Linked DNA regions of Homo sapiens. The protein of the gene in region 7 purifies or fractionates together with the protein of the main gene of each other region. This does not show direct contact. Each region holds a gene or a part of one and is shown on either strand. Other genes may lie near its edges. The genes, in order: CDYL, ACAD10, ITPRIP, BTAF1, XPO4, CDC42BPA and MLNR.

The links.
Region 1: the proteins of MLNR (region 7) and CDYL purify together in Homo sapiens (affinity purification with mass spectrometry; one large-scale study listed by BioGRID and IntAct). This does not show direct contact.
Region 2: the proteins of MLNR (region 7) and ACAD10 purify together in Homo sapiens (affinity purification with mass spectrometry; one large-scale study listed by BioGRID and IntAct). This does not show direct contact.
Region 3: the proteins of MLNR (region 7) and ITPRIP purify together in Homo sapiens (affinity purification with mass spectrometry; one large-scale study listed by BioGRID and IntAct). This does not show direct contact.
Region 4: the proteins of MLNR (region 7) and BTAF1 purify together in Homo sapiens (affinity purification with mass spectrometry; one large-scale study listed by BioGRID and IntAct). This does not show direct contact.
Region 5: the proteins of MLNR (region 7) and XPO4 purify together in Homo sapiens (affinity purification with mass spectrometry; one large-scale study listed by BioGRID and IntAct). This does not show direct contact.
Region 6: the proteins of MLNR (region 7) and CDC42BPA purify together in Homo sapiens (affinity purification with mass spectrometry; one large-scale study listed by BioGRID and IntAct). This does not show direct contact.

Annotation. Positions count from the first base shown.
Region 1 is NC_000006.12:4,891,404-4,894,903, forward strand, and holds part of CDYL (chromodomain Y-like protein), read left to right. Parts: intron 1-309; coding exon 310-976; intron 977-982; exon of another isoform or gene 983-3,500.
Region 2 is NC_000012.12:111,692,553-111,696,052, forward strand, and holds part of ACAD10 (acyl-CoA dehydrogenase family member 10), read left to right. Parts: intron 1-144; 5' UTR 145-157; coding exon 158-344; intron 345-3,500.
Region 3 is NC_000010.11:104,309,200-104,311,832, reverse strand, and holds the end of ITPRIP (inositol 1,4,5-trisphosphate receptor-interacting protein precursor), read left to right. Parts: 3' UTR 1-2,133; downstream 2,134-2,633. UniProt on the Homo sapiens protein: Enhances Ca(2+)-mediated inhibition of inositol 1,4,5-triphosphate receptor (ITPR) Ca(2+) release.
Region 4 is NC_000010.11:91,930,270-91,933,769, forward strand, and holds part of BTAF1 (TATA-binding protein-associated factor 172), read left to right. Parts: intron 1-1,112; exon of another isoform or gene 1,113-1,251; intron 1,252-3,500. UniProt on the Homo sapiens protein: Regulates transcription in association with TATA binding protein (TBP). Removes TBP from the TATA box in an ATP-dependent manner.
Region 5 is NC_000013.11:20,794,747-20,798,246, reverse strand, and holds part of XPO4 (exportin-4), read left to right. Parts: intron 1-1,189; coding exon 1,190-1,483; intron 1,484-1,990; coding exon 1,991-2,171; intron 2,172-3,500. UniProt on the Homo sapiens protein: Mediates the nuclear export of proteins (cargos), such as EIF5A, SMAD3 and isoform M2 of PKM (PKM2). In the nucleus binds cooperatively to its cargo and to the GTPase Ran in its active GTP-bound form.
Region 6 is NC_000001.11:226,989,365-226,993,492, forward strand, and holds the end of CDC42BPA (serine/threonine-protein kinase MRCK alpha), read right to left. Parts: 3' UTR 501-4,128; downstream 1-500. UniProt on the Homo sapiens protein: Serine/threonine-protein kinase which is an important downstream effector of CDC42 and plays a role in the regulation of cytoskeleton reorganization and cell migration. Regulates actin cytoskeletal reorganization via phosphorylation of PPP1R12C and MYL9/MLC2.
Region 7 is NC_000013.11:49,218,841-49,222,877, forward strand, and holds MLNR (motilin receptor), read left to right. Parts: upstream 1-1,497; coding exon 1,498-2,398; intron 2,399-3,199; coding exon 3,200-3,537; downstream 3,538-4,037. UniProt on the Homo sapiens protein: Receptor for motilin.

The DNA.
Region 1 (3,500 bases), on a different chromosome or scaffold from region 7:
GTGGAAACCAACTCGGTGGTCAGGCTTCAACACAGAAATAGCAGAGAGCCCCTTTCAGTCACAAGAAACATAAGTCACCTAATGCATATCCACACGTTCTCAGCATAAAAATTTAGCATCTTGTTTGACTTACTTTCAGGGAAATTGTCCACAACCCAAATGGCCTATTACTATTTTATTGAGGTTGCAGAAGAGATCATTTTATCATCTATTGTGGTTTTTGCTATTTTTGATGTTTCCTAATGAAACTTGCACTTTTCCCCCCAAATTTTGATTTTTTTAAAACTATTTTTTTCCTTTTATGAACAGGTTGAAAGGATTGTTGACAAAAGGAAAAATAAAAAAGGGAAGACAGAGTATTTGGTTCGGTGGAAAGGCTATGACAGCGAGGACGACACTTGGGAGCCGGAACAGCACCTCGTGAACTGTGAGGAATACATCCACGACTTCAACAGACGCCACACGGAGAAGCAGAAGGAGAGCACATTGACCAGAACAAACAGGACCTCTCCCAACAATGCTAGGAAACAAATCTCCAGATCCACCAACAGCAACTTTTCTAAGACCTCTCCTAAGGCACTCGTGATTGGGAAAGACCACGAATCCAAAAACAGCCAGCTGTTTGCTGCCAGCCAGAAGTTCAGGAAGAACACAGCTCCATCTCTCTCCAGCCGGAAGAACATGGACCTAGCGAAGTCAGGTATCAAGATCCTCGTGCCTAAAAGCCCCGTTAAGAGCAGGACCGCAGTGGACGGCTTTCAGAGCGAGAGCCCTGAGAAACTGGACCCCGTCGAGCAGGGTCAGGAGGACACAGTGGCACCCGAAGTGGCAGCGGAAAAGCCGGTCGGAGCTTTATTGGGCCCCGGTGCCGAGAGGGCCAGGATGGGGAGCAGGCCCAGGATACACCCACTAGTGCCTCAGGTGCCCGGCCCTGTGACTGCAGCCATGGCCACAGGCTTAGCTGTTAACGGGAAAGGTGAGTGTCTAGGGAGCTGCTCAGGCTCCGTGGTGATCCCAGAGGGCTCGGGTCCTTCTCTAGAGATCAGGCCTTGAGCTGGGCAGAGTCCGGGGCTTCTCACGGCATCTGCTGGAGCCTTGCAGAGATTTCGCCTTCTCCTTTCTTCGCTGGAAGCCTTTGATATTTCTCTTAATTCGGCAACTAGTTTTTTCTGTGTAATTCGCCATCCACAGACTGTGCTACCACACTGACTTGCTTTAAACAGTATCTCCCTCTAACTAGGTTATTAGGTGATAAGTTTTTACAGCAAGTTTCTGAAGCTGTCTACCTTTCTTCACCTCTGAAGTGCTGAGTCTTGTCTCGTGTTAAGCGTTTTCTTCTAAGTGTGGCCAGCATTGATACAGAAGTGCAGGTTCTTATTTTGCTCATCTGTGTGAATACCCAGGAATGCCTTTCAGTGGGAGCGTTGCTAACCCAGCAGAGCCTTTGGGAGCCGGGCTCGTTTCTCTGTTGTGATCGGCAGTGCAGGTGCCATTGCTTCCCCCGTCAGAGCCCAGTCTGCCTGGCACCGGTGGTGTCCTCTGTTTTACTCTCATCCCCAGCCCCGCTCCTGGGTTCTGCAGCTGCCTTGGTTGTGCCATGACCTGTCCATCTCCCAGGACAGCACAACTGGGAGTTCACATGGGTGGCTTCCTTCTCCTCACTTGCCACACTGTGCCGGCCACAGTTTTCTCTTACGAGGCCTCATGACTTCTCACCTGCTGGAGCTTTCTAATAGGGCTTCCTGCTTCCTGCCTTCTGACAGCTCCCATCCCTTTTCAGTCATTCTTGGACGAGGGTGGTGTCCACTGGTGCCCCCACCCCATTGCCTTCAGTAGCAGGTGTGCCCTGTGTGTCTGCGACCTGGCGCTCCGCTGCCCTCTGGCTCGCTCTCTCTGTCAGCACCAGGGCCGCACGTGGTCCCTTCCTCTCCATCTGCTCAGGGGCCCCCACCACCTGGCCCTCTCCTCTCTCTCCCTTCTGAGTTGTAGTCTTAAAATTGTCTCTTTAGCCGGGCGTGGTGGCTCATGCCTGTAGTCTCAACACTTTGGGAGGCCGAGGAGGGCAGATCGCTTGAGGTCAGGAGTTCGAGACCAGCCTGGCCAACATGGTGAAACCCCGTCTCTACTAAAAATACAAAAATTAGCCAGGCGCGGTGGCGCGCACCTGTAATCCCGGCTGCTCAGGAGGGTGAGGCACAAGAATCGCTTGAACCCAGGAAGCAGAGGTTGCAGTGAGCCGAGATGGTGCCATTGCACTCCAGCCAGGGTGACAGAGTGAGACTCCGTCTCCCAAAAAAAAAAAAAAAAGAGACTCCGTCTCTTTACCTGTGTGTGTCTCCTCCAACCCAAGCTCAGTAGAATAATAGCAAACAAAATACAATGGTGTTGGTTTGTTTGGGGAGCTACTTTCCTCTAAAGCGAAGTGTTCACTAAGACATTCTAACCGTCCTGCTTTGGTGCATTCAACAGGTTTTCTCCTCGGCCCAGGCCCTTGTGTAGCAAAAAAGTGGAATATGAACTGAAATCTGGGGTCTCCCTTTGACAGGAAATTGCCATCTTGCCAATGTTTTTCAGATACACACTTGACCCAAACGGTGCCTTTTCCGGCTTCATTGGAGCTTGTGAACTTGTTTGCAGGTTTGACTTCCTATATTGTTTGACCTCATGGATACAGTTTTCTCTTACTTAGTTGTATGTGAGGGATCAGAGAAGTTCAGAGGTAGAAGGGACTCACTTAATAGCACGCTCTATTTTGCAGTTAGGGAAGTCGAGTCCAGAGAGAAGATGATGTTCATGGAGAGAACCGAAGCCAGAAGGGGAACCAGAGCGCGTGCCTTAGTGCCTCCCTGGCGTTCTTCCCAGCATTGCTTGTTGCCTCCTGGACAGATAAGCACCTCCGTCTTCATTGATGACTTGGGGGCCAGGCACGGTGCTGGACTGTAGTGCTACCAAAAAGGACTGATGAGCTATAGTCCGTGGGCTTGGCCCTGCCCTGCTCCTGGTTTTGTATGACCTGCAAGCTCAGAATGGATTTTACATTTCCTGATTTTGGAAAAAGAAAAAAATCGGGAGGAATATTTACTAACGTGAAAATATAAGAAATTAAGATTTCTGTGTTCACACATAAAGTTTTCTTGGAACACAGCTAACCATCCATTACTATGAATGAATGGAGCTATCCATTCATTTACTTCCACCACCAATCCCGGCTAATTTTTGTATTTTTAGTAGAGACAGGGTTTCACCACGTTGGCCAGGCTGGTCTCAAACTCCTGACCTCAAGTGATCCACCTGCCTTGGCCTCCCAAAATGCTGGATTACAGGCGTGAGCCACTGCATCTGACCTACTTGGCTCTTTACAGAGAGGATACCTGATCTCTGCTCTTAGGAGGCCATAGATCTGTGAGCCCCCTTTTTTGTCCACAAAAGTCGTGTGTGTGTGTGTGTGTGTGTATATGTGTATATACACACATGTGTATGTGTGTGTATATATACACACG
Region 2 (3,500 bases), on a different chromosome or scaffold from region 7:
CACTGAGGTCAGTTGTGGGTGTGATTCGAAGTGCCTGTTGGAGATGGGTTAGAGATGTCTGGCTGGCCCCTCTGAGCTCCAGGATGGAGGCCTGGTTGGGAGGCAGTGCAGGCAAGTAACGCCCTGTGCCTTCTTCCCACACAGCCTCAGCCTCACCATGTGTGTCAGGAGCTGTTTCCAGTCCCCCCGTCTCCAGTGGGTGTGGAGAACAGCCTTCCTGAAACACACCCAGCGCAGGCACCAGGGGTCCCACCGATGGACACACCTTGGAGGCAGCACCTACAGAGCGGTGATTTTCGACATGGGCGGAGTTCTCATTCCTTCTCCAGGGAGAGTCGCTGCAGGTGAGCTATTGATTCTGTTTCACTTTGTGGGACTAGAGTGGTGGTGGGAGAATGGAGGGTGATCGGGAAGGCAGAGGGGAACACTTGGGCAGCAGTGTGTCCCAGCAGGCCATGCTCTGGCTCTCGAGTCGAATTCCAAGCACCACTAGGGGGCTGAGTGTCTTGGGCGCATGATTCAGCTTCTCCAAATCTTACTTTCCTCATCATTAAATGAGCTAATGGTAGTGCCTTCCTCCTTGGGATTTGGCGGAGAGTTATCCGTGGGAAGCACTTGCTTAGCACAGTGATTGCTCAGTGCATCCTAAATTCTCAATCAATGATGAGCTGCCATGAATGCTGTGATTAGAATTTAACCACCAAGGCAGGGCACAGTGGCTGAAGCCTGTAATCCCAGCACTTTTGGAGGCCGAGGTGAGAGGGTCGTTTGAGCCCAGGAGTTCAAGACCAGCCTGAGCAACATAGTGAGACCCCGTATCTGCAGAAATTTAAAAATTATCTGGGCATGATGACAGGCACCTGTAGTTCTAGCTACTCAGGAGGCTGAGGTCGGAGGATCACATGAATCCAGGTGGTTGAGGCTGTAGTCAGCCGTGATCATGCCACTGCACTCCAGCCTGGGTAACAGAGCAAGACCCTTACTCAAAAACAAACAACCAAAAATCCCAAAGAATTTAACCACTTCTTCTTGGGAACTGTTCTACTTCTGAAATCTAGAATGCTGAAATTCCCCTTTTGATTACAGCCTTCCTCCCTTCTACCCCACTCCCTCTAAACCTGCTTCTGGACTGACAGGGTAAGGGTCAGCCCTCTGGTCTCTGGTCTTCTCTTTACCAGCCCCTTCCTGGTTTTACTTCTTTTCTACTCAGTTCAGTTTTTATTAGTTAAAGTCGTTTTGGCTTCAAGCAGTAGAAAACCTAACAAAACAGTGACTGAAACAAGCTAGAAGTTTCTTTCTCTTGCACATAAAAGCCCAGGTATGTGGTCTGGGGCACTGTGTGATGCGACTCTGTGGTATCAGGGACTCCGACTCTTTATAGCATGTTGCTCTGCTGTGACTTTTCATTTCCACTCTTACATTGTGGTCTGTCTTGGCTGTGTCGCCTCCTGCTATCATATTCTCATGCCAGCCAGCAGGAAGGACAAAGGGCCAGGCAGCCATCCCTCTCCTTTTGACCTTCTGTGGTGGCTGGTTGGCCAGTTCTCCATCCTAAATCAACCCAGGCACAGGTTTTCTATGCCTGCGTGTCTAGGCTTTCCAGCACTGCTGACCAAATTACTCAGCCGTGCTAACTGGCTGCACAAGCTGGTTTCTGAGCTCCAGCCTCAGTTGGGCCATTGGTGCTACGCCTGAGCCTCTCTGTTCCTTCACTCTTATCTCTCTGTTCCTTCACTCGTATCTCTGTCATGTTTACCTCAGGGGCTGTTCCAGACTGTCCACTCCCCCTGCTCCTTACCACCCCCAAATATTCTTGCTCTGCAGATAGCTGAATCTGTTCTTCTACAAAGAACATAAAGACTAAACCTGAGCAACACAGTGAGACCCTATGGTGAGCTAGGATTGCACCACTGCACCCCAGACTGGCACAACAGTCTTTTTTAGAGAACCTGTCTCTAAAAAAAAAGGCAGCAGGGAAGAACATAAAGATCACTGGACAGAAAGTTTCTTGACTTTCTCTAGAATATCTTAAGAACCAATTCACTTCTCTCCATTGCCACTGCCTCCACCCTTGCCTTCTCTCACCCAAATGATGTCATCAGCCTCCTAACTTCCTCTGCCTCTGGCTCTCTGGATTTTACAAAATCTCCTCCCAGCTCCAGAATTAACCTTTCTAAAACATGGATCGTGCTTCTGCGCTTAGCAGCTCACACCTGTAATCTCAGCAATTTAGGAGGCCGAGGTGGGCAGATCGCTTGAGCACAGGAGTTCAAGACCAGCCTGGCCAACCTGGTGAAACCTTGTCTCTACGAAAAATACAAAAAGCGTACCTGGGCATGGTGGTGCATGGATGTAGTCCCAGCTACTTGAGGGGCTGCGGTGGGAGGAACTCTTTAGCCTGGGCGATTGAGGCTGCAGTGAGCTGAGATTGCACCACTGCACTCCAGCCTGGGTGACAAAGTGAGACCCTGTCACAAAATAATAAATAAAATAAAAATAAAGCATAGATCTTGTTCCTTTCATCCCTGGCTTGAAAATCTTGAATGCCTGCATGTGGTCCCCTAGATTAAGTCTAGAAGCTTTCACCTGGGATTCAGGGCTCCTCTCAGTTTTAGCTTTCCTGCTATGGACTACCTGATGCTCCCCAGGCATGCCAGGCACATTTGCATGTTTGTGCCTTTGCAAGCTGTGTTTCCTCCCTGCCTCCTCTGCCTGTTCAAATCCTACTGATGCTTTTAATGGCAAATTTAAGGGGATATTATTCAGCAATGACTGGAATCTTTTGAACACTCAGTAAATCTCATGGTTGTTACTAACTTCAAGAGTCCTCTTCTGTCAAGACTTCTCCAACCTCATTTGCAACCTGGGCAGAATGTTCCTGGATAGCCAATTCCCATTAAGTTTCACCTTCACCGAGATATTTTTGTTTGCAGTGGGATATGTTCATGTCTCCTCTATGGGGCTCTTGGATTCCAGGACCCCAGGTCTGGGATTTCTTCACTTCACTGTTGCAGTGTTAGCTCTGCAGGCTGGCTCAGTCATTCAGGAAATGTTTGATGGGTAAATGTGAACAAAATAGTGATGCCTTCTACTTTGTCTTTTGCTTGACTGGAGCTTCTAATGTTATTTATTTCAAATGAACCATATCAAGGGTCATTTGATAAGAATATACTAGAATTGGCCAGGTGCGGTGGCTCATGCCTTTAATCTCAGCACTTTGGGAGGACGAGATGGGCGGATCACTTGAGGTCATGAGTTTGAGACCAGCCTGGCCAACATGGCAAAATCCAATCTCTACTAAAAATTCAAAAATAAGCGGGGCATGGTGATGGGCACCTGAAATTGCAGCTACTCTGGAGGCTGAGCAGGGAGAACCACTTGAACCCGGGAAACAGAGGTTGCAGTGAGCTGAGATCATACCATTGCGCTGCAGCTTGGGAGACAGAGCAAGACTCTGTCTCAAAAAAAAAAAAAGTATATATATATATACACTAGAATTA
Region 3 (2,633 bases), on a different chromosome or scaffold from region 7:
ACAGGAAGCTTTTGGGTTTTAAAGAAAGAGATTGTATTTTAAATAGAGGATTTTGAGTCCTCTAGGGGACTTTGGCCTTTCCACTAAGGACAACCCTGCCCTCTTTCCCCAGAGTCTCTTTCCCAAGGATGCTTGACTTTCCCCAGCAACTGCTCACTTGCTTTGCAAAATAACAAGGGTGAAATGAATAGAGTTGGCCCCTAGGCCAAGAGGCTGGTTATGTTGGGGAAGGGCCTTATATCCTCAAAAGCTCTAGCCCCTCTGCATGCCTGGCTGAAGCACAGCCCCCGTTGAGAACCTGGGGGTGGAGCTCTGGTTCATCATCAAGGGTGTCATCCGAATCACCCAGACAACCTGGTCCATTGCCCCGACCCCGCCTTGAACCTACATGGTGCTCAGAATCCAGTCTGGAGTGGTCAGGCTAGGCTCGATTTTTAAAGATTTCCCCCAAGTGACTGATGGTACCCCTAGCTGAGGAAGCCCTCTCACTTTCTTTCTTAATGGAAAGTTAAAGAAAACCCAAGTGGACTACTTTCCCTACAGATCTATTGGAAGATAGATAGACCTGGGAAAAGCCAATGAGCCTGCTTGGAATCTGTGGTCTAAGTGGCATCAGCTACACCACAAGCTTCTCATGAGGGCACCCACATTCACGCTAGTGCCGTAAGCCTCAGAGAGAGGGTGGGAAGGCATAAGATGGTGAGCCCTTCTCCCAAGCAGGTCATGAATAGTCCACAAGCATTTGTCAGGAGCCTAACGTGCATGAGACATTGTGGAAGATGGGAAAATGAATAGGACCAAGCCTGTTCCCTAGGAGAGGCAGCAGAAGGTGGCCTTCCAAGTACTGAGCTATTCCAAGTGTGACCCTGCACTACACATACGGGTGTCACCTGGGGGCAGCTTCCTGGGCCGTGTCACAGACTCCAGTGGGATCCTGAGAAGTTAGGTAGAAGAATCTGCACTTCACCAAGTTCCCCACCTGATTCTGGATGTCCAAGAACCACTGGTACCTGGGCTGATTAGGGAAGGCCTCATGGTGGGGCGCTGCCAGATAGAGACTCTGAAAAATGACCAGGACTGTGGCCAGGAAAGACATTCCAGCCAGAAGCATGGAGTGAGGGTGGGAAGCACCTACTGTATGGCAGGCACCGTTCCGCACACACATTTGTTAATGCACACAGTTCCATGTCAGTCCTATGATGTAGGTGCTATTCTTATCCTCCCTGCTTTCCAGATAAGGAAACAGGCACTGAAGGGGCAACTGACTTACCTACTGTCACAGTGGTAAGTAGCACAGCCCAGATTCCAACCCAGGCAGTCCTGGTGTACATGTTGGCATATACTGAGAAGTCGTAGCAAATGAGGTTGAAAAGATAAGAGTGGGGCTGAACCATGCAAAGCCTTGAATGCTAATACAAGGTAAATTTGGACCTCACAACAAGCAGAGGTGGGCCATTGGCGGGTTTTGAGTGAGACAGTAACTTGATTCACCCCCAAACTAAGGAGTCCTTATCTATGTGATCAGTGCCATCCATGTCCTGTGCTGTAGGGTACATGGCCGGCTTCCCGAGCAGGGTTGGTGGCAGCTGGCAGTGGTTGGTGAATGTCCAGGAAGTCTTAACTCAAGCCACCCCAAGGCTGTGATTCAGAACATTTTCGTGGTCCGTCTCATCTCCACCTCACGGGACAGAGCTGGAAGGCTGTTTGGTTTGGCCAGCGACCGAAAGCAGAGGGAGCCAAGAGTCACAGAGTGAAGGGCAATGTGTGCCTTCAACAGGGCCCTCCCTCTCCGCCCCACTCTGCCTTGCCCCACCCCTGTCCCTGGGAAGGGCATCTTTTAGAGTTAACTTTTCTCATTGCCATCCAAAAATAGCTTGCTTGTTTAACTAGTTTGTTGTTTAAAAAATAAACATAAAAGCAATAATACAGTCATAATTTTAAAATTCAAGTACTAACAGGAAAATTAAGTAACAGACTAACGGTCCCACTTCTGACTTCTTAGTCCACTCCCCAGAGATAACCAATATGAAGTTTTTGGTGTATCCTTCCAAAATTTTTCTGTGTATGTGTCACATGTATGTATATATATATGCATCCTTTTAGTCCTTTTTTACATAAATGGCATCATACCGACTAATTCTTCTTGGTTATCTTTTTGAACATTTGGCTCTACCTTATTCTTTAAACTAGCTGCTTACTGGCCGAGTACATTAGCTCACACCTATAATCCCAGCACTTTGGGAGGCCAAGGCAGGAAAATCGCTTGAGCCCAGGAGTTTGAGACCAGCCTGGGCAACATGGCAAACCTTGTCTCTACAAAAAATATATAAATTAGCCAGACATGGTGGCGTGTACCTCTAATCCCAGCTACTCCGGAGGCTGGGGTGGGAGGATTGCTTGTGCCTGGGAGGCAGAGGCTGCAGCGAGCCGTGATCACTCCACTGCACTCCAGCCTGGGTGACAGAGTGAGTAAGACCCTGTCTCAAAAAAAAAAAAAAAAAATATATATATATATATATATATATATGGCTGCTTACTATCTCACTGTCTGTATGCATGTACCATAATTTACCCAACTTTCCCTACTGAGGAACACTTAAGTTGTCTCCACTTTTTGCTGTTATAAACAACAC
Region 4 (3,500 bases), on a different chromosome or scaffold from region 7:
GTTCGATCAGGGATGGAGGGTAGAAAAAAATGTCTTGAAGGAAATAGCATAGCTTGGTTGTACATTTTCACCATTCTTCATTTAACCAATATTTACTGAGTGCTTTCTATGTTATAGGTGCTAGAGGTATAGCAGAGAAAAAAACTGTACTCTCCATTCTCATGGAGTTTATGGTCCAGGGTAGAGTGGGGTAACTTATCTAGCAAGCACCTGCCCTTACACCTGGCTTTGGTATGGTTTCACACCTTCATATTGATTCTTAGTGTTCTGTGTGATATCTTTATGTTTAAAACAACATAACATTAACATAGTTTCAAATTACCCACAACATGACCTAGAAAGTATATGTTTAAAAACACTAGAGAATTTGTTGGAAGTTGTTTCTTTTGACCTTAATGATAATATGTGCACTGTACTAAGTTCCACGTATTAAGTACACACTGTACACTATACTAAGTAATGGTCATTATCTTTCCTTACTTCCTGAGTAACACAGAAAAGTAAACATTCAAATCATCTATATTTAAAATTTTACTGTACTTTTGCCACGTGTAAAAAATGTATAACTAAATGGCTACTCTTGACTGGTCATGCTTTTTTAGTTAAGGCCACAAAGCTGTCTTTTTGAGGTATTCTGTCAGTTGACCTTTCCTAATTTATCAGAGAGGTTAAATATATTTTGAAAATATCAGTGAGGCTTTTTGCCCCTCCCCTCCCGAGATGTTTTAGAGTGGAAATACAGTATGTATTTGTTTATTAACTATGACGTAGTAATCTAGGACATGTTTTATTGTTTAAAATGCATGACATTTCTTTCTGTTTATTTTTATGGCTTTACTGTTATGAATTAACATAATGCAAACATCTGGAGAGGAGAGGGGTTAGATTGCAACTGCTAGCATAACCTCTACTACTATGTACTCTTTCCTTTTTCTAGGCAGTCTTTAGAACAGTTGCCTGAAATCACAGGTTACATGAATCATATCTTGTTTAGCTAATTCTCGGAATTGACATCCAGATTGAAAATGGGCCAGATTTCTTATTCTCAATAAATTTATAACCAGTGGATATTACAAAATATAATTTTCTTATGTTTTACTTATCTTCTATAGTCTTTGGTACCTTCCATGCAACTTGACATCTGTTACCTGTGTCTCCTCCATCTGTCTGTCTATCCTTCAGAGAATGAAGAATGTTACTTTTTCCTGCTAGCTGTGTGCAACAGAAGTTTTAGCCAAAAGTAGTATGGGAGTAAGTACTGTGTTCCCTCAGTCAGCCCTCCTTTTAACTTTCCCTTCTCTTCTGACCATCTAGCTTCCTTCAGACCTCTCCCTCACCAAGGGCCCTGTCTACCCTCCAACATAATACTGACTCTGTCTCACGTTCTTTTCCTCTTCCCCACAAGTTCACTGTACCAGCCTTTTCCACCGTGGCCTGGCCCTGATGCTTACCCTGCTTGCCTCATAGCTGGCTATCCTGAGATAACAGGTCAGACTGCCCTCTTGTCAGATCTTTGTCTGCTCATCTCTTTGTTCTTCCTTTTATGTGGTGTCCAATCTGCTGTCCTGAAGAGAGGAATGGAGAACTACGAAAGTGGCTTTAAATCAAGAGAATCAAAGAAGCATTCTTGTGTCTCCATTCCTCTATTCAGGGAGGCAATTTTGGTTACCATCCAAAGTGGAAGAAGTAAGGATAAACAGGCTTGGAATGGATGAGAGAATGAGCTGATCTGCTACCCTCAGGGCATTTGGCTGGTGGGAGAGCAGAGGTGACCTGACATAGCATTGGGATAAAAGGATCTGCAAAAAGGAGAATCAAGAGGAACTGTGTGTCTGTGGGACAGTATCAGCAATTAGGTTAGAGAGGAGTCTAAGGTCTTTGGGCAGGAGTTCTAAGTGAAGCTGGGTAGCAGAGGACCAAAGGAAAAGTTTAAGAAGGATGGAAATTATTGAAGGAATACAGTGCCTATTGCATGGCATTTTTCAGCTTGCTATTTGGGACAAGCGTAACTGCCTCATTCAGAAGGCTGAAGTACTGCTGTGCTGATCTTTTCAGTTACTGAAACATTACATTACCAACTGATTTTTTATGTAAAACTGCTGTCACAGATTAAGGATGTTTCTCAAAGGAAGCAGGAAAAAAAAAGGTAATATAAAATATTTTTTCTTTCCTTAAAGTTGGTTCTTAAACTTGTCCCCAAGAAACTTGAACTTTTCCTTAAGTATAGTTTTAGTTACAGTAAATGTCAACTACATAACAAATATTTGAATACTGTGCAAAGTGTTGTGCGAGACAAAAAGAATGATTGAAGGAGATGAAGCCTAATGAGGAAAATTAGACCTCATGTGACAAATTAATGTGAGAGATGCCACAAAAAAATATAATAAATACTTAAGTAGCTGTTCAAGATGAGAATTCATGTGGATTTCAGAAAAGGAAGTAATCTCTGTTGCATAGTAGTTTGAAATGGTTTCAAGAAGGTGAAGAACTTCAGCTGAATCCTGTTGGATGGGAGCTAGCTGAACAGTTGAACAAAGAGAAAAATACTTTATTTGTTTGCTGTAGCACATTTTATTCTCTTGTTAGAGAAGCAAGCTCAGGCACACCCGAAGATCACCTCTAGTGGTGTATCTGGTTAAATTCCAGGTGATATACCCATATTCTCAGCTGTGCCTCCCACCAACAGTTCCCAGTCTCACACATGGGGCCATTATATCTGCACAGCTGCCTGCTGTTGCAGTGAGGCAGAGTACATACCCACTGCAACCCCAACCAGTGACCATTCTGGGGATCTGGCAGAAACTGGCCAGGAAACCACCCCCTTGAGGAGGGGTGAGCCACTGTAACCCTAGCTTGAAGGGGTGTGAGAGACATTCTGAGTGGAGGAAACAGTATAGGTAAAATTGTGGAAACCAAAAATACCCACATTTGGGAGATACTTTTTGTTTTGGATTACTTTCTGGTAGGTAAGTGTGAGCCATTGAAAGTTTTAAAGTAAGGTAGTGATTTATTCGGGGGCGTTTTAGGAAGTTAATCTGGCAACAGGATGACAAGGCAGTTGGGAGTGTGAAACTGGCACTCTCAGATGGCCTGGATTTGGGGAATATTTGTTCTGGATATAATTTAAACAAATAACAGTATACAGTTTCCTCAGGGAGAAACTGATGAGAGTTGAGCAGTCAAGGATTGAATATGAGTATTCTCCCGATATTCATATTAAGAGTATTAAGAATAGGAGAACTAAGGAAAGAAGAGTTTGGAGAACAGGGTAATATAATGTGCAACTTAGGAAGGAAAGTATTGTAAGAATGGGGTGCTTGCTGGTCGCAGCTGTCAAAGAAGAGTCAAGAAAAATTGACCTTGTAAAAAACTATTGGATTTGGAGCCTAAGAGTTCATTGGTGACCTTCAGGTGTGGTATTTTGGTGTAGAAAGATGGAACCTTGATTTATATGGATTAAATTGTGTATGATGAGGAAATAATATTTTAAACACTTGTTC
Region 5 (3,500 bases), about 28 Mb from region 7:
TTCCCCTTTCTATATCAGTTATATTGAACTAGGGGCCCACCCTATTCCGGTATGACCTCATCTGAACTAATTACATCTATGACAACCCTATTTTCTTTTTTTTTGAGACGGAGTCTTGCTCTGTCACTCAGGCTGGAGTGCAGTGGTGTGATCTTGGCTCACTGCAACCTCCACCTCCTGGGTCAAGCGACTCTCCTGTCTCAGCCTCCTAAGTAGGTGGGATTACAGGTGCGCACCACCATGCCTGGCTAATTTTTGTATTTTTAGTAGAGACGGGGTTTTGCCATGTTGGCCAGGCTGGTCTCCTGACCTCAAGTGATCCGCCCACCTCAGCCTTCCAAAACGTTGGGATTACAGGTGTGAGCCACTGCATCCGGCCAACTCTATTATCAAATAAGTTCATATCCTGGGGTTTGGATTTCCACATATGAGTTTTTGAGGAACACAGTTTGACCCATAACAACAACCATGGGCACATTATTTAATAGGCTTTAAATCAAGGGCCAAGAGTTGCCAGTGTGTGTAGGTTGCCAGCCTGCAGTCCTTGTCTAGAGGGCCCTTAGTGTTTGAGAAGGGGCACAGTAATGGAATTAGGCAGTTGTTTGTGACTTCAAATCCAGGGGAAACCAGACTGACTAAGTATTTTTATTTTAAACAATTGTATTATCATATGGACAACTTAAAGTCGAATTAAGATACTGTCCTCTTGAATATGAGTACTCTTATATACAGGGCAGGACTGATTATCTGAAGTTACGTTCTGTGCCAAGAGGAATTAGGTAAAGGAAAAAGGAAAAAAACAGACAAGAACTTTGAATTGGGCTTCACTCTGTAGAGGTCGGCAAGCTGCAGCCCATGGGCCAAATGTGGCTTACTGTCTGATTTTGTAAACAAAGTTTTTTTTCCTTTTTGACTCATTACTTGGAAAGAGATGGAGGGAAATGGCAGAATTCTTTGAATGGCAGGGAGACAGTTATGTCCCATGCTTTGGGTGTTCTGGCTTTACATGAGCGGAAAGTTAGGATGACCCTCAAAATGGGGAGTGTAAAGTCTGGTTTAGATATTCTTTGTTATGTGCTTGTCCTGCCTCCAACAATTAGAAATGTTTTGGAAAGTGAATATGTATCCAAGCAGAGGAAATAAAGCATGAGAACTGAGCTTTAAGAAAATTCCTGGTTTATTTTTATAGGTTCTTCAGCCACTTCAGCAGCGATTCTTAAGAGTGATAAACCAAGAAAACTTCCAGCAGATGTGTCAGCAAGAGGAAGTCAAGCAGGAAATCACTGCCACACTAGAGGCCCTGTGTGGCATTGCTGAGGCTACCCAGATTGACAACGTAGCAATCCTGTTTAATTTTTTAATGGACTTCCTTACCAATTGCATTGGATTGATGGAAGTTTACAAGAATACCCCAGAGACTGTCAATCTCATTATAGAAGTTTTTGTTGAAGTTGCACATAAACAGATATGCTATCTTGGAGAGGTAAGCACTTTCTAATTTTATCCCCTCAGGATTAAAACTCTTTGAAGCTGTAATAAAATAATAGATCTTTGCTTAAAATTTGATTAGTATTATCTTAAATAATATTTTTATTCCTTCAAAAGATTTTTAAAAAAGATTTTTGAAAAGAACTTATAATTTAGAGAAAGTCATGTTGAATGAATGTAAATTTTTTTTTTAATTTCTTCTAAAAGGAAACAGGATACATATACAGAACGTTCAGATTTGTTACATAGGTATATGTATGCCATGGTGGTTTGCTGCACCTGAATATAAATTCTTGTCCTAAAATTTTGTTAGAAAAGGGGTAAAATTAAAAAAAATATACTCTTAATATATGCTTTCTAGAAATTATTGTTTTAATGTAGTTTAAAGCAAGAATTATTGCTACTGTTGGAATTCGGAGTTAATTTATATAGATTATATTTTAAAATTTTTTTAATGTCAGTGTACCAAGTAGCATAATTTGTGCATTTTTTTTTTTTTCAGTCCAAAGCTATGAACTTATATGAAGCCTGCCTTACTTTGTTGCAAGTGTATTCTAAGAATAATTTAGGGCGGCAAAGAATAGATGTTACAGCAGAAGAAGAGCAATACCAAGACCTGCTTCTCATTATGGAACTTCTTACTAACCTGCTGTCAAAAGAATTCATAGATTTCAGTGATACAGGTAAAATGTAACGTGATGGTTTTTAAACTTTGTTGTTATCCTCCTTTTTATTAAATCAAAGGATTGTTTTCTGTAAGAGACATCTCATGAGGAAATTCAATTTATGGAATAAATGAAAGAAGATCTTTGTGGTCAAAGTGAGGGTGAGGACCAGTGGCCCTCCTGCTTGCCTTTCCTCTTGTAAGAATAATAGAAATAGTATCTCTCATTCATTGAGATCTTACTAAATGCCATGCACTGTTCTTACCTCTCACAATGGTATGAAGTCAATCCCATTGTTATTCTCACTTTATAGATGAGGAAACAGAAGCACAGAGAGCTTAAGTCACTTGGCCACAGATACTTAGCCAGGACTGGGATTCAAATCCCAGCCTGTGACTCCAGATGCCAGTCTCTTCAGAGTTACACTTCCTGACTAATCACTTCTCCATGTTCCTCACGGTGGCCACCCCAGAAACCCTAGCACTTTCCAGAGTGTGGCTTGGAAAGCCCTGTTGGTGTAGGAAGCACTCTCTCTGGAGTTAACAGCCCACACTTTGAAGACCTAGCCTAGTGTCTCACCTACAGTATGATGTGAGGGGAGTTGATTAGCCTACCTGTGTCTTTACTAGCTGGTCAAATGGGTATGATAATAAATACCTTTCAGTGTGTTTGAAGGATCAGCTGTAAAGTGTCTTTGGTGCCTAGCATTGTGTCTGACAATCAGTAGGTAAAAGATAGTTGCTGTTACAGGCAAGAACCTGATCAGTAATTTAAACCTCATATATGTGTATAGTTTTCAGTGCTGTAGAGTTCACTCCCCTCCTATCTCACTGCCAACCTTGACTTCAAACAAAATGGATCCTGTTTCATGACAGAAAAATGAATCATATCTAGCCTCTCCTATTATATGTTGTGCAGACACGTGTGGTAGTGGACATTTTTGGCTTCTTCCTTGTAAGATTCTCTTTCTAAGTTGGGTGCTATAATATCCACTTGACTTATTTATCCCAATCCTTGAGATTGTTCTGTTTCCTTAATTTTTTCGTATTCCTTATTCACTGGACCATGTCTTTTTTTTTTTTTTTTAAATTCTTGGGCAACGGTTTTTCCAATATCTGCCCTGAGCTAGGTACCATCAACTTCACAGTGTAGAAGGTTTACTCTTTATTTTTTTTGCAGTTAACTAGGGGTACCAAGGTGAGATAGTCTGAAAAGCACTGTACAAATTCACTTTTCCTCAGTGAATTCTTTCTGGTCTGTTTTTAGGCCCAGCCTTTCACCCAAGTTTTCTAACTTTCTTCAGGTCAGTTCTGCTTAATCCAGGAGTTCTTAACTTTTTCTTTCTTT
Region 6 (4,128 bases), on a different chromosome or scaffold from region 7:
ACCGGAAGTATTCTCCGAATAACTACTTAGCTGCCACCAGTTCAGGAGTTCCTTTAACCCCACCCCTGGACCTTCCCTGTATGTTCTTAGATGAACCATTCTAACTCCAGAAAAGCAGTAACAGTCCGTCTTGTTTAAGTGACACAAAATCAAACTGCTCCCACATTCACACTGTCAGGGCCACTCAGGAAACCTCACGCAGCCAGGGTTTGGTCTTGTGGACCGAAGTAACAGCAACAGCGAAGTTCTGGCCAGAAGAGGGGAGTTGAAAGCTTCAGGAGAATTGAACATCATTCTTACCCGAGCTAAGGAAGAAATTAAGAAAGTCCTAGATTAAACCACAGGGGCAAACTAACCCCATGTCCTTTTACGGCATAAAGAAGCAGCCTGGATGAGGAAGGAGGCCAGCAGAAAGAAGAGAAGTGACAGGCGGAGAGGTGGCACCTTTCTCTATTTCTCAGACTTTCAAGTGGGGGGAAAAGAGACAAAATACTCAATGCTAACAGTTCTCTGTTTTATTGCAATACAGCAAAGTCTGGTTAATATTAAGTGATATCAACATAAAGTATTGGTGAGGAGTCTTTTGTGACATTTTTTACCATCCCACCTTAAATATTTCTGTGCAAAAGAATCCACATCATTGTTTGGTAGCAGAGGATCTCTTAAAAAGTTCCCTAAGACACTGAGGGCATAAAACCAAACAAAATAAAATAAGGAGTGATAGGCTAAAGCAGTATCTTCCCCTCCATCCACATTTGTCAGCATTATATTCTAACCAAAAAATGATCACACCAGGCCATGCAAAACTGTACAATATTACGAGAAAAACCCTAAAAAATTTATAAAATGAATGATATTACACTATCAAATAAAAAGACAAGTCATTTTGTTTTCATGAGATTTCAAGGTTGATTTGAGTCAGCTTCCCCCGGAACTGCACGGTGTCCTGTGTGGGGAGGGCCCAGCGTGCTGCCAGTGCTGGGGGGCAGGGCTTACACTCCTTATCTAGCAGAAGTGCACAGAGAACTCTGGACTTGAGTAACAAAGTCATAAGGAAAGAGATTTTAAAATGGGCTCCATGAAATGCAGCTCATCTAGTTCAGGGCTGGGCCAGAGAGACGGGGGAGTGGAGTGCCCAATTCATTCCCTGTTGTGCTCACCAGACATGGGCTACGGCAAAGTCTGCTCTGAGCGCCCCTCTGTCTAGATTGGATGGGGAGCCTTAGGCTTGGCAAGGCCTACCTGCTGGGAGACTGCAGTGGTTGTGATCCCGGCCAAAGGCGGCAAATGGCCCTGCTGCGTCTGTGGTTTTGACCTCTGCTCACCCCTGCTCTGGCTTTTCCTTAATGATACCTGAGATGCCACATAAATGTAACCAGTCTTTCTCAGAAATAGACGTGGCCACTAAGTAACAAAATGACATAATTCTAACCTATGGAAGGAGAGAGAGGCTGAGAGCTAGCCAGGAATGATAGATTGTTGCTGTAAACATGACAGGAATTTCAGATTCTCCCCTGAAATGTGAGTACAATAATTGGCTGGAAAACCAAATAGATGGGCTCCTTTTAGTTGTATCTCATAGCCTTAAAGCTGTGCTCCCTAGGAAATAACAGAAATCACTAAGTGTGTTGGGGATGTGTATAAATACATACATAATAACAAAAAATGTAAGATCTACTTTAGCAATCATTTGACAAGAAGCAAGACTTTTGTTTTTGGCAAAAAGAATATATATGTATGTAATTTTAAATACCCAAAGCACAAACATGATTAGTCAGAATTTGAGGGTAGATAACTTGGCTGGACATAGATAGCACCAAATACTAACACAGATAGACTATCCCAGAAATGCCTCTGAATGTATTTTTTCTATTGAGAAACAGGTTTCTGCTGCCATATACGTTTTTAAAATGTCCTGCATGAAAACAAAAGAAAACTTCAGATAGTAATAAAATACTTTATCTGTGAGCTGTGCTACTGACTCCTCTGAATGGTCATTATGTTTTCTTTGCCTAGAACCCACTCCCTGTCTTTTCACATCATTCTTCTCAGAAGCTTCTGGAGGTAACAGGCTTCATATTTAAGGGTGGGATAAACCCAGTAGGATGACCGTTATTTTGGGAAAACCCTCCCCAAAACTATTCCCCCTGGCAGTGTTTCTCTCCTAAAGCCCTGCTTTTAGAATCTGCACGCATTCGGGACTGCTCTATTATGACTGATGAGATTACTTGCCATTGCAGTGGAAAAATCAAAGAGTGCCATGGTGCAATCCATGGGGTGAATATGGACAAGTCGCCCAGTTAGCCTGGCAACCTAGACAAGCCTCAGTAGCTCTCTCTCTCTGCCCTGTTGGGAGGCTGAAGAGTATGACCCATAGCAGTGGAGCTAGACTTTAGGTAGGGTTATTATTTTGATCTTAAAAGCATCCTTTGCAAAATAAGCACCTATAAGCAACAAAAATTCATAATTACTTGTCAAAGCTACAAACTAATGGCTTATGTCAAGTCCTGTTAATCTCGGCTTGGGATGGCCTCCTCCCTGCCTGAGAAGAGAAGGGAGAGAGGAGAAGGCAAGGGGAAAGGGAAGAGGAGGATGGGGAGGGTGGGGATGGGGAGGGTGGGAAGAGTGAGGAGGAGAGGAGGGGAGGGTGGGGAGAGTGAGGAGGGTGGGGAGAGTGAGGAGGGTGGGGAGAGTGGGGAGGAGAGGAGAGAAGGGTGGACAGAAGGGGTGCGAGCTGGTCACGAGCACCAAGCAGGGGGCCGGCTGGCTGACTCCCTTCTCTCACGTGAGGTGCTGAGGACAAGGATCTACCAAGTCATATGACAATGATCCAACTAAAGGGCCAACCCTTGGTATTCAGGTGAGAAAAGTATTTTTATACTTCATTCTAAAAAGCAGAAAGATTTGGGAGATTAGAACTGTGCTGTGAATTACACCCATCCAAAATAAAATATAATCAAATCTGAGCTGGCACCAAACTCAGAATGTTTAAATGTCAAAGCTGTTACATGAAAATTCCCGATTATAGGTGCTTACAATGGAATCCCCAGCAGGATCCTTTCTTCCCTCACTGCATCTCAGAACCTTCTCCACACAGCAGCATCACCTGGAAACAGCCTCAGCTCCCTGCACATGCCGCAGGCCAGCATGGTGGCCACCTCAGTGACACGCAGGTCACCTCAGTGACACAGACGTGGAGTCACAGACAGCAGCAGTGAAATGATGGCCTTAAACACTGCAACTCAGGTTAGCAACTGCAGGAAAACTTTCTTCATTTTCACTGAATTTTAAAGAGAGAATCCTGTCTCTATTTCTCAGAGAAACTTAGGTGAAAAGTAAAAGAGAGGCAAAATCTCTTTCCTTCATGAGATACTTTTATTTTTATCTCTTTCTCTACTCATGTGCTTAACTGGTGAAATGATTCTGTAGAAATAGATCCTTCTGATTCTGCATCTCATTTCCTTATGGCAACTACAACAGGAGGAATCCAGCTGGAAATGCCACTAACCCCACAATCCAGCACCTGAGAGAGGAAGCCAGTCGGAGCGCCGTGCTGGGCTCACTCACTCTGGCCTGCGCACTGGGGTTGTCACATCCATTTTCCACTGGCTATGGGGAATAATATTTGGTTAAGGCTGTTGAAGCCCTTGCTTTTGAGGTTTTACATTATTTGGTAATGAAAGCCGTTTTTTCTTCCTTCCCCAGGCTTATGTGAAGAAGCCCACGCCCACTCTCAACAAAACAGACTCCTCCTTGGGAAGCATCTCCAGCCCTGGGACAGACACCTCGCTGTGACTTAGGGAGGGACAGGATTAGCCCAGGAATAAAAGCATTTTTAGAAATTGTTTTCTGCACCTTCAGAAGCTACAACACTCCTTGTAACCTTTCAGATGGAAGGGATCAGAGGTGACAGAATCGTGTATTTCTACATTTATCTGCGGAAGATAAAATACAATAAAAAGTGAGAAGTGTTCAAATTCCACCACTAGGAAAAGAAACATCTTGGGTAGAGATGAGTTCGCCTTTTGCTGCTGCTGCTGAAGTGGCTTCAAATGTTAAAGCTCTGGTGCCCAGGGCATGCCCCAAACCAGCAAAACCTGGCTCTGCAAGTGTTTTCTACAGCTCCCC
Region 7 (4,037 bases):
AGGTCCAGAATCGAGACTCCAGAGAAGAGGTTGAGGATTTAAGCCACTGAGGGGGTGGAGCTGGGCAGTGAGTAGGACGTCAGGCTTGCAAGCTCTGGGATTAGGCCGACCAGAGCCCATATCCCAGTCCCGCCTCTTACTGCCTGCTTGATCTCAAGCAAGACCGCTTTGTTCATGGGCGAAAGGAGCGCCCCGGGCCATGAGGATTAAATGGAGAGCACAGGGCCAGATCCATCTAAATTCTCAGTAAGTGTTAGCTATTGTTATTAAGACCACACCGAACAGACTGAACATCCGTTTTAGCCCCTTTCCCCAATTTTCGTTCTTTCCGGTGTTGACAAATCCTCTAGTTTTTTAAGTTTATAAAACATGTTGTACATAAGAATGACATATCACATGTGAAAGTACTCTAGTGTCCACGTAAATATTTGTCTTGTTCTTTATAATAAGTAAACATGCTCACGGATCCTTGAAATTATCTGGTCACTGCCGGGCGCGGTGGCTCACGCCTGTAATCCCAGCACTTTGGGAGGTCGAGGCGGGTGGACCACCTGGGGTCAGGAGTTCGAGACCAGGCTGGCCAACATGGCGAAACCCTGACTACACAAAAAACACAAAATTTAGCCGGGGCTTGGGCGCTCCTGTGCTCCCAGCTACTCAGGAGGCTGAGGTGGGAGGACTGCTTGAGCCTGGGAGGTCGAGGCTGCAGTGAGCTGTGATCGCGCCACTTAAACTCCAGCCTGGACGACAGTGAGACCCTGTCTCAAGAAGAAAAAAAGAAAGAAAGAAAGAAAAAAAGAAAAAAAAGAAATTATTTGGTCAATTATATGGTCAGCTCCCTCCACCACTCGCGAATTTACAGAAGAGGAGAACTGGGCTGGGCGAGACCAGGACTAGCCCAAGATTACACAAGTTACTCGGTTGTAGAGCCAGGATTAGACAGGAGAGGCTCTAGATTCTGGTCTAGACTCCCCTCCTATTATTTAGCATTATGGCTTCCTGAGGATTACCATGAGCCCTCCTCCACCGTCAAGCGGCAGCTACCAGCCACCAGACCAGATCCCTTCGAAGGTGCCCGGAGTACCAGACTGACAAAAGCGCCCGTACAGTGCTCAGTCCTGTAACCAAAGCTGTCTAGGGTGCAGACATCGCTCACCGGACCGGGTAGGGCTCGTGCGCTAAGGGCGCCGGGTATTCCAGTTAGTGGAGAGGGAAGCGCCCTGGAACTGCATGGGCCCGGGAGAGGGCGCGGGAGCGGAGCAGGGCCGGGCCGGGGCGGGCCGCGGCCGTGGGCGGAGACTGCGCGCAGCTAGCTCGGGAGCGCCTCGGAGCCCACCCCGCAGAGCCGCTTCTCGCGCCCCGCAGCGCAGCGCAGCGCTCCGCCGTCTGACCTGCCGCGCCCGCAGCGTGCGGGCTGGGAAAGGAGGCGCTCACCGAGAGGGACCACGCGCCAGGCTCCCAGCCCGACCCGGGACGCGGCGGCCGCGCGGAGCACCCATGGGCAGCCCCTGGAACGGCAGCGACGGCCCCGAGGGGGCGCGGGAGCCGCCGTGGCCCGCGCTGCCGCCTTGCGACGAGCGCCGCTGCTCGCCCTTTCCCCTGGGGGCGCTGGTGCCGGTGACCGCTGTGTGCCTGTGCCTGTTCGTCGTCGGGGTGAGCGGCAACGTGGTGACCGTGATGCTGATCGGGCGCTACCGGGACATGCGGACCACCACCAACTTGTACCTGGGCAGCATGGCCGTGTCCGACCTACTCATCCTGCTCGGGCTGCCGTTCGACCTGTACCGCCTCTGGCGCTCGCGGCCCTGGGTGTTCGGGCCGCTGCTCTGCCGCCTGTCCCTCTACGTGGGCGAGGGCTGCACCTACGCCACGCTGCTGCACATGACCGCGCTCAGCGTCGAGCGCTACCTGGCCATCTGCCGCCCGCTCCGCGCCCGCGTCTTGGTCACCCGGCGCCGCGTCCGCGCGCTCATCGCTGTGCTCTGGGCCGTGGCGCTGCTCTCTGCCGGTCCCTTCTTGTTCCTGGTGGGCGTCGAGCAGGACCCCGGCATCTCCGTAGTCCCGGGCCTCAATGGCACCGCGCGGATCGCCTCCTCGCCTCTCGCCTCGTCGCCGCCTCTCTGGCTCTCGCGGGCGCCACCGCCGTCCCCGCCGTCGGGGCCCGAGACCGCGGAGGCCGCGGCGCTGTTCAGCCGCGAATGCCGGCCGAGCCCCGCGCAGCTGGGCGCGCTGCGTGTCATGCTGTGGGTCACCACCGCCTACTTCTTCCTGCCCTTTCTGTGCCTCAGCATCCTCTACGGGCTCATCGGGCGGGAGCTGTGGAGCAGCCGGCGGCCGCTGCGAGGCCCGGCCGCCTCGGGGCGGGAGAGAGGCCACCGGCAGACCGTCCGCGTCCTGCGTAAGTGGAGCCGCCGTGGTTCCAAAGACGCCTGCCTGCAGTCCGCCCCGCCGGGGACCGCGCAAACGCTGGGTCCCCTTCCCCTGCTCGCCCAGCTCTGGGCGCCGCTTCCAGCTCCCTTTCCTATTTCGATTCCAGCCTCCACCCGCCGGTACTTCCCATCCCCCGAGAAAACCATGTCCTGTCCCCCAGGAGCTCTGGGGGACCCCAGGGCGCTTTGAGGGTGGGATCCCCGGATCCGATTCAGTAACCAGCAGTGCTTTTCCAGAGCCTCTGAGACCAGAAAGGAGAGTTGGTAATTCTTAATCCAACCACCTGTTAGATGCCACAGATGAGGAGTCCTCACAGTGCTCTTGAGAAGACGAGGGAGATTTCATTAAGCTAAAATTTTTTATTTAATGTTAAGTGATGCTGAAGGCTAAAGTAAACCTTGCTCGTATCAAAAAGTAAAGATTGTGCAGACCTGTTGTAGAATTCTTTTCAACAGAGAACAGAAAACTTGTCTCCGAAGTGGGTTTGTGGAAGGAAGCCTGCCAAGGCGGCTTGTTCAGAGAAATTGCTCCTTCTGGTTTATGTCCAGCCTTGATAACACATATGGGAGCCTACTATGCAGTTTTAAAGCAAGTATCCATGCAGCCTGCAGCCTGGTCATTTTTTCTGGGGTGAGGATCTGCCTAGGTAGAAGTTTTCTCTAATTTATTTTGCTGTTACTTGTTATTGCAGATGGTTCCTTGTCGGGGTGGGGGGTTTATTTGCTTCCCAATGCTTTTGTTAATCCCGGTGCTGTGTCTTATGTTGCAGTGGTGGTGGTTCTGGCATTTATAATTTGCTGGTTGCCCTTCCACGTTGGCAGAATCATTTACATAAACACGGAAGATTCGCGGATGATGTACTTCTCTCAGTACTTTAACATCGTCGCTCTGCAACTTTTCTATCTGAGCGCATCTATCAACCCAATCCTCTACAACCTCATTTCAAAGAAGTACAGAGCGGCGGCCTTTAAACTGCTGCTCGCAAGGAAGTCCAGGCCGAGAGGCTTCCACAGAAGCAGGGACACTGCGGGGGAAGTTGCAGGGGACACTGGAGGAGACACGGTGGGCTACACCGAGACAAGCGCTAACGTGAAGACGATGGGATAACCAGCACGGCCAAGCCAGGCTCCTCTTGCAGTTCTAAGACTTTGGGGAAAACAGGTGTGTAGAGAAATAAAGACTGCAAATGAGGAACAGATCCTGTTAAGAAGAATGGAAAGAGGGTTGCAGTTGTGCCAGTTGGTTAAGAAATAGACCGCATGATTTATTTAACCAAGGTATGAAATGTAACTGCGCCAACCTTTCTAGTTTCCTTCCCACGTACCTCCTAAGGAAGGTCGATTTTACCATCATGAAATCCCACATCTCAAAGTGTGCTCTTGTGTGATGGTTTCATGAAGTCCTCATTCTCCTACTCTTCGGAAAGATGATTGTTCATTTTACAGTTAAATGATACACAAAGATGCTGCCCCAAAACTGCCACCTCTGAGATCATGAGTGTATTTTATGTTTTGGATGTAAATGTAACAGTACATCTACAAGGAACCAGGATAATGATAGTTTTGATCCAAGAAATGATTTAATACCTATGTATGGCTGCAAAAACT